Regions from separate parts of the Homo sapiens genome. Here region 2 is linked to region 1. The links come from fine-mapping of genetic effects on gene expression. Tissue or cell type: tibial nerve. Region 1 holds a variant in brackets; the other region holds the start of a gene. All regions are shown on one strand. Distances are between the middles of the regions.

The links.
Region 2: POC1B-AS1 starts here. The variant in region 1 is fine-mapped to the expression of POC1B-AS1 in tibial nerve (GTEx, PIP above 0.99). The same link has a PIP of 0.9 or more in esophagus muscle, lung, subcutaneous fat, thyroid and tibial artery.

The regions. Positions count from the first base shown.
Region 1 is chr12:89,545,874-89,548,784 of GRCh38, reverse strand. No RefSeq gene overlaps it. Among named protein-coding and RNA genes, the nearest start is that of POC1B-GALNT4, 21 kb to the right of the region's middle. The variant C/T (reference allele first, on the strand shown) is at 1,188.
Region 2 is chr12:89,523,885-89,526,795 of GRCh38, reverse strand. POC1B-AS1 (POC1B antisense RNA 1) reads right to left here and starts at 1,226. Exons shown (of 2, transcript NR_146294.1): 1 at 1,000-1,226. POC1B-DUSP6 (POC1B-DUSP6 readthrough) reads left to right here and starts at 749. Exons shown (of 11, transcript NR_189589.1): 1 at 749-915; 2 at 1,592-1,676. POC1B (POC1 centriolar protein B) reads left to right here and starts at 749. Exons shown (of 12, transcript NM_172240.3): 1 at 749-915; 2 at 1,592-1,676. The coding sequence starts at 901. POC1B-GALNT4 (POC1B-GALNT4 readthrough) reads left to right here and starts at 534. Exons shown (of 3, transcript NM_001199782.1): 1 at 534-915; 2 at 1,592-1,676. The coding sequence starts at 641. It also overlaps GALNT4. RefSeq lists silencers at 794-1,053, 1,604-1,983 and an enhancer at 2,074-2,283.

The DNA.
Region 1 (2,911 bases):
CTTATGCCACTCTCTGGCCCAATTCCTGCAATGGTGCCCCATTTCATTGAAAGTGAAAATGGAAATCTTGCAGCAGCCTGGAATTCTCCTTCCCCACATTGATTCCCGGGCCTCACATCAACTCCTTTTCTTTTTTCTCACTTTGTCTTAATCACACTGGCTTTTTTGCCTTGAACTTGTCAGGTTCTCTCCTGCCTCACTATTCCCTCTGCCTGGATTCTCTTCCCCAGCTACCCATATGGCCAATATCTTCTCCTTTATACCTTTGCATAAATATCACCTTCTTAGTGATGCCGATCTGAACAGCCTATTTAAAACTGCAAACTTCCCCACAATGCTTACTCACTCTGCTCTTTTTCTTAAGCATCCCTTATCAATCTAACATATCATGTAATTTACTCATTGTTTATTGTTAATTGGCTGGCTGTCTCCCCTCACTAGGCATCAGTTCCACAAGGACATGGAATGATTTACTTACTCATGGAACCTCAAGCATATAGACTAGTGTCTGACACATAGTAAGTGTTCAGTGTTTTCGTTTTGTGAATGAATTGATTAATCTGTGATATGTTGTCCTTCTCACTGGCCTATCAGCTATATCTAATGCAAGTCATTGCATTCTTAGGTCTTTAATAATTCTAGGTCTTTAGTAAGTGTTTTTGATGGGCTGTTTAGCCAGAAGAATCCACTAATTACGCAGCATTTCATAAAATTTTTTCATCTAGTTTCTATTTCATGGAAATGTTTGCCAAAAGGTCATCATTATATGGAGCACCTTTCATTTTTTTCTTTTTATTGAATAAGAATACATGTATAGAAAAGTACAACTTTCATAAGTGCACAGCTTGTTGTAATTTCACAAAAAAAAATTAACTCAGGTAACCAATACCCACAGGAGGAAACACAACATTACCAGCCCCTAGATGCCCCCTCATGCTTCCCTTCCTGACTTCTGATATTACAAATTAGTTTAACACAGTTTATTTTAAAAACACCATATTCAGATTTCAATAGTTTCAGTAATGCTTATATAAAAAACTGACTTTAAAAAATTGATCTGATTTCCTCCGTCACTGACAAAGACAACATAAAAATGGAACTTGTTCTAAAAAAGCACAAATAGAAGGAATTTATCAGAAGCTCACATTTCAAGATAGACTTTCTGGCAAAAATCAATTAAGTATAGA[C/T]ATTGGATATATCTACTTCTACCTCATGTACATTTAGGAAAGACCATGAAATACATTACTTATCAGAAATATATGTCAAGGGCTAAGCTATTGCTTTGTTTCCTTATTGGTTTGCAATATTGATGCTGTTATATCTCTAAGGATTTTCTTAAATCAAGTGAGAAGAAGCTTGATGAAGAATCATTTCACTTAAACTTTAGGGTAAAGAACTGCACAGACGTGGGTGAGCTGTTATTCTTTATCCCCTCACACCCTCAGATCTATTCTCAGCACTTCTCTTCTCTGCAAAAGCTGATGAGTCAGACTTCTTACTGCTTCCCGCCTTTCCCTCAAACCGTACCTCTGGTCTCCCCGGGTATTCCCTATGACCCTTTGATGAGAAAAGAGGGTGACAGTGGCCTGGTCTGGTTTAAGAATTATCTGTCTGGGGTGGCTCTGCAAGCCATAGGAAAATCTTCCCATAGACAGAACTTCAGGAAGTACATCTGGTTGGCCACTGACATGAAAGAAGGGATAAGCTGAGGTTTCCTGAAATACACAGGCAGGGGCTAATGGGTTGGTCAAATTATCAGGGACCTGGAAGGTTGGTGCCAAGATCACCTAAAGGGAAGTTATATAATGGACCTCTAAAAATGGCTAGTCTTTGAGGCTATTTGAATAGCATATAAATGTTCCCCCAGAGGACATCTACCTCACAGAAAGCTAAATGAGGAGGTGGCCAAGATGACCTATCCCTTGGTTGTAGTGAGCCTCCTTCCCTGGCTGCTATGGTCTAAATATTTGTGTCCCTTCAAAACTCATATGTGGAAACCTAATCACCAATGTGAATGGTATTAGGAAGTGAGGCCACTGGGAGGTTAAGTCCCCAGGGAAGTTAAGTGCCCTTATGAATGGGATTAGTGCCCTTATAAAAGAAATCCCAGAGAGCTGCATAGCCCTTTCCACCATATGAAGACACAGAAGGTGGCCCTCTGTGAACCAGGAAATAGGCTCTCACCAGACGCAGAGTCTGCTAGAACCTTGATCTTGAACTTCCCAGCCTCCAAAATTGTGAGAAATAAATTTCTGCTGTTTATAAACAACCCAGTTTACGGCGTTTTGTTAAAGCAGTTGAGCATGCTAAGACACTGGCCATGTTTGTGCTTGGGTAAATGTCTCATGTACAAAGTGGCCATGGGAATAGGAACAGAGGCAATGAAATAAATAAACATGGACTTCCTCACATCACAGCTGATCTGCCACTGTCACTGCTGAGTGCCCAGATTTCTAAAACGGAAGGCAACACTGAACCCTTATTTGGCACTATTTCTTGGAAGTATCAGCCACCCAGGTTGATAATATCAGACCACTACATTATGGAAGGGGCAGGAATTTGTCTTCATGGGAATAATTACATATACTGGAGAGTAACTTCCCTTTCCTGTGCATGTTGCTTCCGCCAGCACTACCATATGTGGTTGATAGGCTGCCTTATTCATCCCCATGGTGTCACACACAGCATTGTCACTGATCAAGGAACTCATTTACAGTGAAACAGCTGTGGTATTACGCTCACATCGTAGAATTCATTGTTCTTACCTGGAAGCAGCTAGATTGATGGAATGATGAAATGTCCTATCGAAGGCTCATTTATGGAGCCTGCTGGGAGACAACATCTTGTGAAGTTGGGGTGCTGTCCTATAAGTGGTCAGATCAGTGGTTGATACATGGTGTTGAATACATGG
Region 2 (2,911 bases), 22 kb after region 1:
CAATATCTAGGAATCAAGTTTATAACTTGGAAACATTGAAAACATTTTGTAATTCTACCAACTTCATTGTTTGGCTGAAGCACAAATGATACTATGTGTAACAAAGCCTGCTGTAGAAACGTGGTCTCACAAAAAACAAACAAAAAAAACCATGTTTCCAAGTCTTCCTAAAGACTTTAAGTATCCAGCTGTGTAAGTTTAGTGCTCTAAGGTATACGCAAATAAGCAGATGAGAATGGAAACATATCGCAGAAAATTATTAAGTGCATGCACAACATTTATTCATTCATTCACTCATTCATTCATCACGCACATCCAGCAACTATATCAATATCCTGCAGGGCACTGTGTGGAAAACAGTGGTTAAATAAATTCAAATCTGCCCTCAGGGGATTTAGTTCCTTTTAGTATATTAATAACTAGCAAGCTGCCCCTCTTCATGTCAAAGCTTTACGTCAACAAAATAAGCGGTAGGGGATCACCTTAAACGTCACGGGTGCTGTCTCTTTAAAACGTAATAGAACTCTGATCGCATCGATCACAGGCTCACAACGCCCTTCCATTCATCGCTCTTATTCCAGTCCTGGTTACTACCCCACTTCCTGACATCAAACCAGGGAGAACGCGAGTGTTAGTTAACATGGCTTGGTGTGTGGCCACAGCTGACCCGGCGCATACCTCCCGTCCTCTCTTTACAGGGCTGGCGGTGTCTCGGGGCTCGGCTGGCCATGCCTGGAGCGCGGGGTTTGACTGGGCCGCCGTTGTTGTAGTGACCGGGAGGCGCTGCCGCTCTGGGCAGACGGTTCCGGGAGCCGCACGGTCCCCTCTCCTTCCCCATCCTCTCCCCTCCCCTCTCCGGGTTCCCCCACCCACAGGAGCCTTGGGCCGACCACTCCCCCGATGGCCTCAGCCACGGTAAGGACGGGTTGGAGGTGGGGGGGGTCCCTCCCTGGAGCCTGTCCCGCGGGCTGCGGGGCCAGGTCCGGGCCGAAGCCGCACCTGGAGGGAGATGGAGGCAGGTGTCCGTAGCCGGGTCCTGAGCCCCTCGTCCCGGGGCGTCCGTATCTCACTCTCTGCCATCGGGGCGGACGGAGTGCGGAACCCAGACCCGGCTCCCGGACGCTCTTCCCCGAGTTCCGGAGCTCCGGACTGAGCTGGGCGGCCCCACGGCCCCCAGAATTCTCGGAGGGTTTCCGTGGAGCGCCTGCGTCAGAATCACCTAGGAAGTATTAAAAAAAAAAAAAGTACCAAAGCCGAGGCGCATCCTCGCACCTGCCTGCCTTGGGCCAGCGGGCGGGGCCCGGGAACGTGCATTTCAAAGGGGCCGCGGTTCCTGCGATGCGCTGGACTCTGGGAAGCGCGAACAGAGCGTTTTGCGGGCTCTGCGGGGAGAGCTGGCGCCGGCGTCTCCCTGTAGCAGGACTGGGCGCCGCGCCCGTGGGTGGGCTGCTGCCCGGCCCCGCCGCCCAGCCAAGCCGCCGCCTGGGTGGCCATTCCCAAGCCGGACTCCGGGGAAGTGGCAGCGTGGATCCCAGCCGCCAGAATTCGAGGTCTGCGGCGGCTTTCAAAACTTGACAACTTTCCTTTCCAGGAGGACCCCGTTCTGGAGCGTTATTTCAAAGGCCACAAAGCTGCGATCACCTCCTTGGACCTCAGCCCCAACGGCAAGCAACTTGGTAAGTCTTATTCTTGTTTTGCTTTTGTAATGAGACTAAACTCCATGGGCCGGAAACCTTTCCTCCTGTCCGGGCAGGGTCCCTAGGAGAACGGCTAAGGGCCTGTATGAGGGTTGAGAGCACCCGGAGACGAGGGCCCAGCGCGGCGGGGCGCAGCTAGGGCCCCCTCTGCCATCCCGGCCCCCAGCCCCCGGCCCGGCCAAGAGCCTCCTATCCAGCGGTCTGGGCCTGGCGGACGACTTTCGCAAACTAACCACCAGGAGGAGTGAGTGGGAAGGGGAGGGGTTTCTCCTCGGCCCGGGGAGGGTGGGGTGTTGGCTGGAGAGTTTGTGAAAAGTTGTGAGCCGAGCAGGAGGAAGTAGGGAGAGAGGAGTTGGGCTGTGCCGGAGGCCGAGGACCGAGAGGGCTCAGGTGACCCCTGGAAAGCCTGGGTGGCTGGAAAGGAGCCTAGCGCCTGCATGAAAGGAAGAACCTGCTGGGAAGTACCTGAGCTCGAGCTGTGGGTTCCGCCGCCCTTCCCCTGCGTGGTGGCTTGGTGGCCGCGTCTGCGCCTCAGCCCTGAGAATCCGGATGGCGGTGAGGTGGACTTGGGCAGGCAAGAGCTGCCTGCTGCTGGCGTTTTTAACAGTGGCCTATATCTTCGTGGAGCTCTTGGTCTCTACTTTTCATGCCTCCGCAGGAGCCGGCCGTGCCAGGGAGCTGGGGTCAAGAAGGCTCTCAGACCTCCAGAAAAATACGGAGGATTTGTCTCGACCGCTTTATAAGAAGCCCCCTGCAGATTCCCGTGCACTTGGGGAGTGGGGGAAAGCCAGCAAACTCCAGCTCAACGAGGATGAACTGAAGCAGCAAGAAGAACTCATTGAGAGATACGCCATCAATATTTACCTCAGTGACAGGATTTCCCTGCATCGACACATAGAGGATAAAAGAATGTATGAGTGTAAGTCCCAGAAGTTCAACTATAGGACACTTCCTACCACCTCTGTTATCATTGCTTTCTATAACGAAGCCTGGTCGACTTTGCTCCGTACCATTCACAGTGTTTTAGAAACTTCTCCTGCAGTTCTTTTGAAAGAGATCATCTTGGTGGATGACTTGAGTGACAGAGTTTATTTGAAGACACAACTTGAAACTTACATCAGCAATCTTGATAGAGTACGCTTGATTAGGACCAATAAGCGAGAGGGGCTGGTTAGGGCCCGTCTGATTGGGGCCACTTTCGCCACTGGGGACGT